Regions from separate parts of the Homo sapiens genome. Here all the other regions are linked to region 1. The links come from fine-mapping of genetic effects on gene expression. A gene starts in region 1. Each other region holds a variant in brackets. All regions are shown on one strand. Distances are between the middles of the regions. Region 1 holds the start of PNPLA1 (patatin like domain 1, omega-hydroxyceramide transacylase). Region 2 overlaps PNPLA1 (patatin like domain 1, omega-hydroxyceramide transacylase). Region 3 holds the start of LOC105375036 (a long non-coding RNA gene).

What was found. PIP is the estimated chance that this variant, and not a neighbour inherited with it, causes the effect. A credible set is the group of variants that fine-mapping cannot tell apart.
Region 2: its variant is the best candidate, but not a certain one, in a credible set for the expression of PNPLA1 in monocytes after LPS (Kim-Hellmuth 2017, PIP 0.77).
Region 3: its variant is the best candidate, but not a certain one, in a credible set for the expression of PNPLA1 in whole blood (INTERVAL, PIP 0.85).

The regions. Positions count from the first base shown.
Region 1 is chr6:36,267,726-36,271,965 of GRCh38, forward strand. PNPLA1 (patatin like domain 1, omega-hydroxyceramide transacylase) reads left to right here and starts at 2,335. Exons shown (of 9, transcript NM_001374623.1): 1 at 2,335-2,939. The coding sequence starts at 2,735. RefSeq lists an enhancer at 443-1,029.
Region 2 is chr6:36,291,823-36,295,822 of GRCh38, forward strand. PNPLA1 (patatin like domain 1, omega-hydroxyceramide transacylase) reads left to right here. Exons shown (of 9, transcript NM_001374623.1): 3 at 1,239-1,304; 4 at 2,368-2,577; 5 at 3,542-3,602. Among named protein-coding and RNA genes, the nearest start is that of PNPLA1, 24 kb to the left of the region's middle. The variant G/A (reference allele first, on the strand shown) is at 1,795.
Region 3 is chr6:36,244,896-36,249,135 of GRCh38, forward strand. LOC105375036 (a long non-coding RNA gene) reads right to left here and starts at 3,114. Exons shown (of 5, transcript XR_007059564.1): 1 at 3,038-3,114; 2 at 1,799-1,935; 3 at 231-401. It also overlaps a transcript of PNPLA1 not described here. RefSeq lists a silencer at 885-934. The variant G/A (reference allele first, on the strand shown) is at 1,819.

The DNA of each region.
Region 1 (4,240 bases):
TACCCTTCTCTGCTGCCTCAGTGGCAGGGATCTCTGTCCTTGGTTCTGGTGCCATCCCTGCCCCCCCCATGGATAGTGCCCATGTCTTGCTGTCATCTCAGATGCATCTTAAAGTAAAATCATCCTCCACCCAGCTTCCCCAGGTCTGTTCCAGTTTCCCCAACTCTGCAGGAGGCAGCCCCACTCCTCCCTACCCCCAGGCTAAAAGTGAGGCCTCAGCCTTGACTCACCCTGCCCATCCAACCAGTCCCTGGCCCTGAGAGTCTTCTGCAGCAATAACTTCATTAACTTGTCTTCCTGCAGCTGCCACCCTGGCCTGGCCACCATCATCCTAGGAGAATGGGCCACCATCCTCCTTCCTCATTCTCCAGCCCCAGTCTCATCTTCCTTCCAAGGCTCTGCATCTTGAGACCTCTCCAAGCTCCTCCTCATGTCGCATGTGGATCAAGCCTTCCCCTTTGGACCCTGCCTTTCTATTCCACCTTATCTCTGGGGTCTATCTGTTCCAGAAGCCTTGACTCTTACTACCCTCTGATAACCACAGACGTGCCGTGTGCCAGGCGTCCTACAGCCATTACCTTTAGCCTTTACAGCTACTGTGCAGCATAGGAATGACAGTATTGTCCCTTTCACAGATGAGGAAAACTGAGGCCCAGAGAGATCATGCACAGGTCACACTGCCTGTAAATAGCAGAGTTGGGATCCAATGTCATGACTCAGAAGGGTTCTCATCCAAAGCCCTTCATCCTGTGAAACAGGTCCCATTACACCCCTTCCCTTCTCTGCAAGGGGCTCTTGCTGCTCCTCGACCAGTGCCTGCCTGCTCCTCCCAGCTGCCTCCAGTCCCGCAGCCCACACCTCCGCCGCACAGCTCCTCAGATGTTCCAGCCCACACTGCTCAGCCCCGCCTCCTAACTTTTCTGGCAGGAATCTCAGCCCTGCACAGTTTAGTACTTAATTATAGATTGCCTTGTACAGTTTTCTGCTTATTTCACATTTGCCTGTCTTGTTCCCAAGAAGCCTGCAAATATCTGATTTGGGGATGGAGCTTCTGTGTGCTCCTGTCCCCCAGGGCCCCGACACAGCACAGGGCTTGGCACACAAGCCCTCAGTGGAGCTGACCTCACCTCCCAGGAAGGGGGCAGGGTCTCTGCTGTCCAAAAGCTGACTGGACTCCACCCTGACACACCCGCCCCCACCCCAGCAGTATGCCTCAGATATCTGCACACACATGCACACATGCATACACACGCATGTACGCACACACACTTTATCTAATCTAAAGCTCTCTTTTCAACCTGAGGCAATGATATGCCTGGAATTACCTACCCAAGACAGAAAACTCCCTCCTAACTGAAGCCTGGCCTTGCCCTCACTGTGGAATTCCCATGCAGATAAGTGAGTCCACCAGAATGGTGCAAGCTCCCCAGAAGCGGGGAAGCCACTGATGTCACATCCTGGATTGGCACTTGGTGGAGGCCTTGGTGTCTTGATTCTGATTCTGGTCCTGTTGCTGTGTGGTCTTTGAGGGGAGCGGGAGACGCCATCTTGCCTTCTTTGTTATATCTCCATGAGGGGACATTTTGTGGGTGTGAGAACCACTCCTCCCCATCAGGACCACATGATACAGCCCCTCAGGGGGCAGAACCGCAGCCCCTGGAGCTAACCCTGGTCCTCTCACACCACCTCCCTTACCAAAACGTCTCTCTGCCCTGACCCCGACGTCCCCACAGGTGACCTCCCCAGCTGCTCCTCCTTGGGGTTAAACATTGCTATCTCAAACTTCTCATTTCTGAGCGGGAAGAAGAACACGCAACACGAAGCCTCACACACTTAGAATGATCTAGATTTCAGGTTGATTTCTTCCTGCACACTTAGAAGATAGCATGAGGGCTTGGGGCTTGTCGAGAGGGCACTGACCAAGGTCACAGGGTCAGTGAAGGGCCCAGGAGAAGAAACAGAGAGAGGTGCAGAGGCGGTGGTGGGTGGGGCCGCCAAAGTCACACTTCTCTTAAAATTTTACCCAGGGCCAATGCTAACATGTAAATAAACAAGTGAATAAACAAAGGGGTGTTTATGTAAGAAAAACAAATAAAAATGCTTGTGTAACACATCACACATACCACATAGCCTGAAGGAGCCCAGGAGGGGCATCTCTTTTGGGGGACCCGTCCAAAAGAGATGGGGTAGGCACCGTCCTCCTGGAGGGAGGCGGGCTTGGAAGCCCTTCACGGCCGCAGCAGCATGTTGGGGAGGGAGGTGTACACCGATAACCATCACGGAGGTTTTGCAACTGAATGTTGCAGCTGAGGGCTGGGCAGAGCCCGCCTCCTTGGGCATGGCCCTGTGCTGGGGAGCAGTGAATGCGCCCTGGTATACCATGGATGGGCAGAGGGCTGAGGATCCCGTGCCCGAGATGAATCTAGCCAAGAAATGAAGCCAGTGGGGGGCTCACAGGACCAAGACCCTGCTCACACACCGGGGGAGCCTTCTGCATCTCATTCTGGGGCCCCTTTCCAACCTTTGGAGTTGCCTCCTGGCGGAGCTTAACAGGCTGAGGCAGCTTCCTGAGCAGCCTGTGGTTGCTCCAGCCGGGTAGAGACAGCCACATTCCAAGCTCCGGGGTGGCAGGGAAGCTGGGTAGGGAGTTCCTACAGGGAGCGGCAGCCCAGGCTCGGGCAGGCAAGTGCTGAAGGGTGGCTCCGCCTTCCGCAGAAAGTCAGAGGCCGAGGAGATGGAAGAACAGGTGTTCAAGGGGGACCCGGACACCCCTCACTCCATCTCCTTCTCGGGCAGTGGATTCCTCTCCTTCTACCAGGCGGGGGCTGTGGACGCCCTGCGGGACCTGGCCCCCCGGATGCTGGAAACAGCCCACCGCTTTGCGGGGACATCGGCAGGTGCTGTGATCGCCGCCCTGGCCATCTGCGGGATTGAAATGGGTGAGGCCTGTGTTCTGGGTCCCCTGGGAAGTCTCTTGGGGGATTCCACAGAGACAGAAGGAGCGTGAGGGAGGCTGGGGATGCTTTGGGGGACAAAGCCAGGCCTGGGTGGCAGGAAGGGAAGGGAAGAGCTGGTTGGAGTAGGATAGCGGCAGCTGTGACGTTTGAAGGTTGGGGTCTGCCAGGCCCCAGACTCTAACATGCAGGGTGAGCCTGGACCCCTGTCCCTCTCCCTCAGTGCCCTTACCTGTGAGATGCTCTGTCTCCCAGTGCCTGGGAGAGTAAAGGACAGTATCTCCCTCGAACATCGAACATGGTGCTGTCAGAAGCTACACCACGGCACAGTCATACATTGGGGTTCAGTGTTGCTCCTGCCTGGCCTCTTTCAAAATGCAAATACCCTTGGGAGAGGCAACTCTTCAAATCTCTATCACCCTGATGGGGACGTATTGTCCACCATTTCCAGGTGGCTGGAAAGATGAACGCCCTGAGGCTGGAGGGGTAGACAGGAGGGAGCCCAGAGTGGGAGAAGAATAGGAAGGGGTGGGGAGAGAATACAGAAGCTCTCACTTCACCTTCTGTCCTGCTGGTCCAGGAGCCTCAGCGAGAAGAACTGCTACACTGCTAACCCAGAGAGAGAAACACTGTCCCGGACAGCAGATGCATCTAGCAGCCCCAAGGAACAAGCCCAACAGCCTAGTGAGCTACCTTGGAGGGGCATTTATTCATTTACAGAGCTCCTATTCTAGACAGAGCTCTGTTCCAGGCACTGAGGACAAGGTCCCCGCCCTTGTGGAGCAGAAATTCTAGAGAAAAGAAACAGATAATAAACATTCAAACAAGGCACCTTCTAGTGTGAGGTCGGGAAGTGATATGATCTATGAATAAAATTAAAGCAGGAAAGGGACTGAGAATGAAATGGAGACTATTTCAGGAAGGTGGTCAGGGAAGCCTTTCTGAGGAGGTGACATTCAAGCCTAGAGCTGGGTATAGTGATAGAACAAGCTACTGGGAGCTCCTGAAAAGGAGAATTCCTGGTGGAGGAGCAGCCACGAAGCCTGCGGTGTGGAAAAGGTGGTGGGAGGTCAACAGGGGCCAGGTCATGTGGCCTTAGCCACAAGCTCTCATCTCACCTAAGGGAGGGGGAGCACAGACGGCTGTGACAGCAAGTGGGGAGGGGGCAGAGGGCGTGAGCTCCTCAGGTGGGATCCCAGCTCTGCCATTTCATGATGCATGCCTGAAGTAAGTTATTGAACGTTCTGCGCCTCTGTTTCTCCGTCCACAAATGGGAGCTCCTAATA
Region 2 (4,000 bases), 24 kb after region 1:
CCCAGAGGCCCAGGTGTGACTTGCAGAGGGCCTGGGTCTCCTTCAGGGCCTTCCAGGCTGGGCTGCCATGCATCCCCCCAGAATTACTCCCACTTTGTGGGAACGGTCAGGGGAGAGGGGCCCCCATGTCCCCTTTCTGCCCCCTCTCTTCCAGTGGCCCTTGATAAGGGATTGAATGGTTACCAAATCAGTTAACACTTAGAAAAGTGCACGCTAATCCTGAGTGCGCTGCCCTAAGCTCATTAATATTAATTTTAGTTATGAATAATGATTGCTGGAAAGGGCCGCAGGTAGGTCCCAGTGTCTTTCGGGACAAAGGGGTTAAGCTGTGTGGCCTCCTTCCCACATCTCCACTCTCCTTCCTTCCCCCACATACAGGGGCTTCGCCACTCCATCCTCATCCCATACTGGCCTGGCAGTAATCCTGGGGATGAGGGATGAATAGGCAGTGGGCACAGACACCACCTCCGTCCCTCAGGCCCCCTGGGTTTATCAGCAGCCAGCTCTTCCAGATCTGCCTCCTCACGCCCACCCCCGTTCTGACTTCACTGCCCACTGCTGCAGTTTTCTCTTCCCGGCCCTCTCCCCCACCTTCCACTCCTACCATGCCAACCCTAGCAAACCACACACAAGCCAGGCCTCTGGGTCTTTGCACCTGCCGCTCCCTCTGCCTGGGATCCCCTCCCTCCTTCCCACACTGCTTTGCCTGCTGCTGAAACCCAGTCCCTCCTGCCAGGGCACTTCCCTTCATCCCCTCCCACCCTGCCTGCACCCCTCTTGTGGAGCCACGGTGCCCATGCTCACCTCCACCATGCCCCTGTCACCCCACTGCACCGTCACCCACTTGCTCACTCCCTCTCATAGGGCACTCCCAAAGGTGGGCCTCTCAGCCTCCTTTGCTTCCAGGGCCTGGCCCAGGGCTGACACACATTAATGGTTGTTGAATCCCACTGGATTCATGAAAGTTCAGCATCAGAAGGAACCCCGAAGCTATGGAGGACCCCCTCCTGCTTTAAAGCTGGGACATCAGGGCCAGATGGACCAAGCAGGTTACCAAGGACCCAATTAGTGAAGGCCAGGCCAGGAACTGAACTCGGAGCTTTGCTTCCCAGTGTGGCACCTTCACCTAGAATTTAAGGAGGTCTGGGCTGGTGGTGGGTGGCCCAGGGGCTGACAGGTGAGCTGTCCCCACCCCACCCCCGGGCCTCCAGCATCTCAGCCCTGTTCTCTCCGCACAGGCCCTATACTGCAGCTGCTTCGTCCCGGTGTACTGTGGCCTCATCCCCCCGACTTACCGCGGTGTGGTGAGTGCTTCGGCATGGTGAGGGGTGAGATGGGATCCAAGGGACCTCGGGTCCCTGTGACTCACACCTGGGGGAGCAGGGGGGTGGTCTCAGAATGCAGCGGGAGGACCTAGAGTTGGAGAGTTTCTCATGTTGTTACTCAGAATTCCCAATGTAGGTGGCTTTCTGGGCCTTTAAGATGAACTTCTCCAGCTGGGGTGGGTTCCTCTCTGGACCCACCTACCCACTGCCAAGCCGGGCAAATCAAGGCTCCATAGGCTTGGCAGGTTTTCCCAGACTTGACAGAGCAGAGGAGATGAAGCACTGGGACCTGGAAACTCAAATGATGAGGATGTTTTCTGAGGCCTGTAGGCCAGGGCCTTACAGACTTTAATGTGCCCTTGAATCACTCGGGGTCTCGTAAAATTATGCAAGTTCTGATCCAGGCGGTCTGAGGCAGTGCCTGAGGGTCTGCGCCCCTAACCAGCCTCAGGTGCTGCCCGTGCTGCTG[G/A]TGGGTGGGCCACACTCTGAGTGGTGATGGTCTAGCTCATGCCCCCTCCTCATTTTATATGCAGAGAAAGTCAGGGCCAGAGACTAGGATTCAGGTAGTAGATGGAGCTTGTATTGCATGTCAGCCAGCCCTGAGAGTTAGAGCCTCAGTATTTGTTGTCCTTCGTTCATAGGTGAGAAAACAGAAGCCCCAGAAAGGAAGGGGCTTGTGGGTGAACAGGTGGTGGGGCTGTAGCAGAGGAGCACGTCTCCTGCTTTACCCAGAGTATGGGTCCCCTGCACACAGAGCCCTGGGAGCCCCAGTCTCAGCGCCACTAAGATAGTGGAGGGAGGATCAGTGCAGGACAGAGCACCGGGCTGGGAGTCCAGAGGCCAATGCAGACTCACTAAGTGACCAGGGGCACACCACGCACCCACCAGGACCTCCGTCTCCAGGCTTATCCTGAGGGGTCTTCTGGATCTTCCTTGATGGGCCCTTGAAGCTGGTGCCATATCCCATGGGCCATTTCGATGTACCCCGAGTGGGGCTGAGAACTCTGGCCCCAAGTGGGCATTTCTCACTCTGCCCCCACAGAGGTACATCGATGGGGGCTTCACGGGCATGCAGCCCTGTGCCTTCTGGACCGACGCCATCACCATCTCCACCTTCAGTGGGCAGCAGGACATCTGTCCCCGGGACTGCCCGGCCATCTTCCACGACTTCCGCATGTTCAACTGCTCCTTCCAGTTCTCCCTGGAGAACATCGCCAGGATGACCCACGCATTGTTCCCCCCGGACCTGGTGGTGAGAGGCAGGAGGGGTCTGGGGAGTAGCAGAAGGTACCAGGGACTAGGGGTGGGGTTAGAGAGCCACTGGGGCCCACTCAAGTTCCATCTGAGTCTCCTCCCCTCAAATGGTCCTTTAAACTTCCTCCTAGACCTGCATCCTGGCCTTGCTGCTAACTAGCTATGTGACCTTGAACAAGCGCCTCAAGCTCTCCCAGCTTCAACATTCTCCCCGGTAAAGCGAGATGATGCCAGAAGTGCTGATAGAAATATTAACTGAACCCATCCATTCAGACAGTTCATGTCCCAAATCAAAGGTCGGCAAGCTGCAGCCCACGGGCCAAATCTAGCCTATGGCTTGTTTTTGTACAGCCTGTGAGCTAAGAAAGGGTTTTCCATTTTTAGAGAGTTATGGGGGAAAGAAAAAAAGAAGAAAAAGAAAAAGAACATTAGGCAGAGACTGCATGTGGCCAGCAAAGCCCAAAATAAGTATTTACTATCTGGCCCTTTACAGAAAAGGCTTTGTGGGCAGTAGCTCATGTAATCCTCTAGCATCCTCTATGATCAATATTATAACTGTCCCCATTTTATAGATGAAGAAATTGAGGCTGTGAGAGGGGACAGCAACACAGCCAATAAGGGGCAGCCCAGAGACCTGAACTCAGGCTCCAAACTTTGCTCTTCATATGGCCCCAGTGCACCTGGTTCTGCCATGAGCACCCCACACTTTCCTCCCAGGGGAGGCCGAGGCTCCACCATGAATGGTGTAACTCATGAACGGAGCATCACTGGGGCGTGTGATCAGGAATTGCTCCTCGGTTCTTCTTAGCAGACAGTGAGGGATGGGACACTGGATGGGTACGTTTTGAAAAGCCCATCAAATAAAATTCAAGAGCAATGGGAGTAGCTGCCCTGGGTCGGGGGAACTGTGGCTCCCTTCCTCCCCGCAGCCTTGGTAATTCTCCTGGTGCCTCCGCCCACAGATCCTGCACGATTACTACTACCGAGGGTACGAGGATGCAGTTTTGTACTTGAGGCGGCTGAGTAAGTACCGGTGGGGCCCCAGGTAAGGGCAGTGTTGGAGGGTAGGGAAAGTTCAAACAGTAGAAGGGCTGAATGGAGGGGTATTCCCCCCAGATTTGTGACCCGGAGACGCCCTTCACCTGGGAGAGCTGGAAATGGGGGTGGGGACCTAACAGGCTGCATCGCCCAGCCCAGACCGCTGGGTCCAGAAAGTAGGATCTCCATGTAAAGGGGGCTTTGGGGTTAACTAAGGGCACAGTGTCTAGGACAGTTGTGCATGTATGCTTATGAATGTAAAAACTCTATTTAGGAAATCCAGAGTTCAGATCTTCCTGGAGAATTCCATTTTCATGTAATTTCATTCTCTTCCACTTTATTCTCTTTCTAGTAAAATCACATTATTAATGTAGAATTGGATG
Region 3 (4,240 bases), 23 kb before region 1:
ATCGGGCAGCTCATGCTTAAGCCCCGAACTCCAGGGTGGCTCACAGGTAAGGGTTTTTAAAGGCAGGGAGGCAGAGGTTACAGGCAAAGTCATAAATCAATACATGGAAACTGTGCATTGGTTTGACCTAAAAGGGTGGGACATCTCGAAGCGGGGCCCGCAGGTCATAGGTGGATTCAAAGATCCTCTGATTTGTGATTGGTTAAGGAGGCAAAGCTTTGTCTAAAAACCTGGGGTCAGCAGAAAGGAATGTTGAGCTCTGGCCTGTGGGTGTGACTTCCTCCAGGCCCCTCAGGAAGAAATGTTGAACAAAGAATGGTGGTCTGAGTTCAGTCCTCGGCTCCCAACTGAAGTCTCTGTGCCAGTGGATGGCATTTTCCATTTGCTGGGGGCCTGGGTTTCTGAAAAACAACTCAGGAACATATATTAAGATGTTATCTTAAGTTTCAATAGGGAACCAAGTATTTTGTGACTCTAACTTCCTTGGCTATTTTTTTTGAAAAGCTATTATTTCCTTCTTGCTTATCATGTTGTTCATTTACTCTCAGGGCTAGCTAGGTGCCTGGAACTTCCCTTGAAAGAACTCAAGATGTTCCTTTATTTCTATGCCTGGCGAGGGAGTTATGCCTGGCAGGCCCTTAAACTCTGTCTCAACTCTGGCTATCAGGATGCTGGTCCTGCCTTCCAGGCACTGCTGCAGGGAGGGGTGGGTGGCTCTGCCCCTGTGCCCAGCACACAGTAGGTGAGTACTCAGCACAGGGGAGCTGCATCCGCTCTTCTGTGGCATTGTCATTTATCTTCAAGGAGCATTTCCTCATTCAGTCCTCACAACAGCCTTGTGGGTACCTGGCAGGAACCGTCATCCCCACGTTACAGGTAGGCAAACAGGGGCTCAGGGACATCCTGATTTGGCCTTGGCCTCATTGGCTGAGGAGGAAACCCAGGCTCCCTGACTCCCCGCACAGTTTCACTCCCCGCCCCCCGCCACACTGCCTCCCAGCGGCTGCTGAAATGCAATTAGCCAGGGAGGGACCTGCTTTTCAGCTTTATACTGTCTGTTATTCCACACACAGATATACGAATGGCACAGGGCCATCTCAGCCTGTTTTTGTTTGCCAACAAACATGAGAAAGATTAGGATATCTAGCCAACATTTTGTGAGTCCTCACAACACTGCAGGCAGGTCTCTGTGCACATACACGCTCATCTACTTCTCAGAAACAGAGGGGTGAGGGCTGGTATCACCCCTGCTGCACAGATGAGGGTAATGAGTAGCAGGGAGCAGAGCCAGGGTTTAAACAGATCCCACATTTTTGGATTTTTTTTTTTGACGAGGTCTTACTCTGTCACCCAGGCTGGAGTGCAGTGGTACAATCACAGTTCACTGCACCCTCCACCTCCCAGGTTCAAATGATTCTCCCATCTCAGCCTCCCAAGTAGTTGGGATTACAGGTGCGCCCACCACCACACCCAGCTAAATTTTGTATTTTTACATGTTGCCTGGCCATGTTGCCCAGGCCGATCTTGAACTCTTGAACTCAAGTGATCCGCCCACCTTGGCCTCCCAAAGTGCTGGAATTACAGGTGTGAGCCATGGTGCCCGGCCAGATCCCGTGTCCTTAACTCCTCCTATCAATCAATTACATTAGTTATATGATACTGATAACTTGTCATTATCAGTATAATTCAAGCCTCTGCTGAAATGGTGGCATCTACTTGGTATGATTTCAGAGACAACAGGAAGGTCCTTTATGCATAAGAAACTAGACGCTTTCCCACCCAGCTTCGAGTCACTCACAATTGCACAATTCGAGCTCC[G/A]TCCTTTTGCCACGGCTTTGAGCTCTGTTGAAACAAGATCCTCCCAGGTGTTTCTCAGTCTTCTAATGCTCAGGCCTGCTTTTCATGACATAAACAGCTCTGTCCCTTTCTGTAGTTCTAATTACAAAAACAAAAGGTTCTTCCCACACGTAAAATTACATAGTACTCTTAAATATGTCTTCTTGAACGCCATCGCCCCATCCCAGACTCAGGACCAGCCTCCCCGCGCTCACTGCTGTCACTGCTTTCCGCACTCCCTGCGGATTTTAGGATTTTAGCTCCCATCTCGCGTCCTCTCTCCAGCTCCTCCTGCCCCCTGCCTGGTGGTTTCACCATCCACTTACCAGCCCGCCGATGGTGCCCTGGCCTCCCAGTTCTTTGACCTCCTCTCCCCAGTGATCTTCCAGGGCTCGGCACTCAGTTTCCTGGTCAAGCTTGAGCCCTCCAGAGAAGCCACTGTCAAACCTCTTTCCGGCTCGTGCCTTGGAGCCATCGCCCCTCAGGGCCCCACAGACTACTGACCTCACCCGCTTTCAAATCCCTACTCCCTCCTTTCCCAGCCTAAATTCCAGGGTTAGTTATTCTAGTCCCTACCTTTTCTATACCCTTCCCTCCACACTCCAAGTTGGACTGTACTTGCTTGGCAAAACCCCAACCCAGTTAGATCCAGTTCTCCGCCAACTCTGCCTGCTCTACTGTGTGTCTTACTTGCTTATTTTATTACCTCTGACTCCCTCCACCAGCATGTTGACCCCACGGGGACAGGGGCTATGTCCCTGCTGCTCTGCCCTAGCAGCCAAAGAATATCTGGTACATAGTAAGTGCATATTCATTAAAGTGTATAGTCGATGAATGAATTTTTCTAGGTGTGGAGAAAGATCTGAGAGCAGGTTTACCATAGTATCTGGGGAAAAAGCAGAGGGGGGACGTTGTGTTGTGTCCAAGGGGGCTAGAGGAGGGTCAAGGAGGAAGGCATAAGGAGGCCAAGCCCAGGGGCTCCTCCAGTTTGCCCAGAGAATGCCACCATTCTTTCCTAATTAGCTCCTTTTGGTCTGGGAGAAGCTCTTAGAAGAGTATTTCATTCTCGAGCCCTAATCACAGGATTCTGAACCCTTACTAAACTGTTGCTTCCTGCAGTCTTGGTTACTCAGGGCTCCCGAGCCAACGTTTGGATGGCTGTGATTATCTGGGATGTCTCAGGAATGACCTAACCACTTACCTCTTCCAAGTTCTGAATTTTACAACAGGAAATTGAGGCCCAGAGAACAGAAGGACACATGGGTGCTGCTGGTAGAGCCCGAACTGGAACCCAGATCTGCCTCCAGTCCCGGGCTCATCTGCCACCGTGTACCATGCCCTCTCTCTGTTGTCACATGCAGTCACTTGCCCGATTGTCCACACCCTTAAAAGAAGCAGAGAAAATGTTTGGTGTAATCCACACCGAACACTCAGATGAACAATGCTGTGGGAGGAAGGGAGGTGATTTAAAAAAATAATAATAAAATAAAAGAAAAATGCAGTGGAGAACAGATATAAGGATTCGACAAGGCTCTGGTGAACCTGCAAAACTTGCTTCCTGAGCGACAGGACAGTTCTCAGGGCCCTGCATGTAGCACCTCATCTACTCCTCCAACAGCCCTCTGAGGGAGGCTCTGTTATTATTACTTCTATTTTATTGAGACACAAGGAAATTGCGTAACCACACACATTATTAGGAAGTGACACAGCCTAAATTCAAACACTGCTTCACTCGGGCTCGTGCTTATAACCTTACCTAGGTGTCTTAAATGCCACACCAAAATAACTTCTCATTTTTTTTTTTTTTTGAGACGGAGTCTTGCTCTGTCGCCCAGGCTGGAGTGCAGTGGCACGATCTCGGCTCACTGCAAGTGCCTCCTGGATTCAAGCAATTCTCCTATCTCAGCCTCCTGAGTAGCTGGGATTACAGGCACATGCCACCATGCCCAGCTAATTTTTGTACTTTTAGCAGAGACAAGGTTTCACCATGTTGGCCAGGCTGGTCTTGAACTCTTGATCTCAGGTGATCCGCCCACGTCAGCCTCCCAAAGTGCTGAGATTACAGGTGTGAGCCACTGAACCTGGCCAACTTTTCAATTTAAGCAAACGTCCCCCCACCAAAAGATTGAGTCCTATTGAGAAGAACTTCATCTTCTGAAAAAGGGGGGGTGTGGGCAAGGTCGGCACTGCTTGTTGCACTGGATGCTGGCTGCATATCTGCCCTAGAGAGGCCCAATGGGGAAGGTGCAGAGGCCAGGGGAGAGGTAACTTGCTCTTACAGAGTCCCACTTCATGCCAGGTGTTTCTGTCCATTAGTGCTGCTTAGTTTTTGCTAGGGGCCTAGTCATGGGATCCCACAGCTAGGAGGTGGTATAACCTGCATACTTTCTCCTCCTAGAGACTT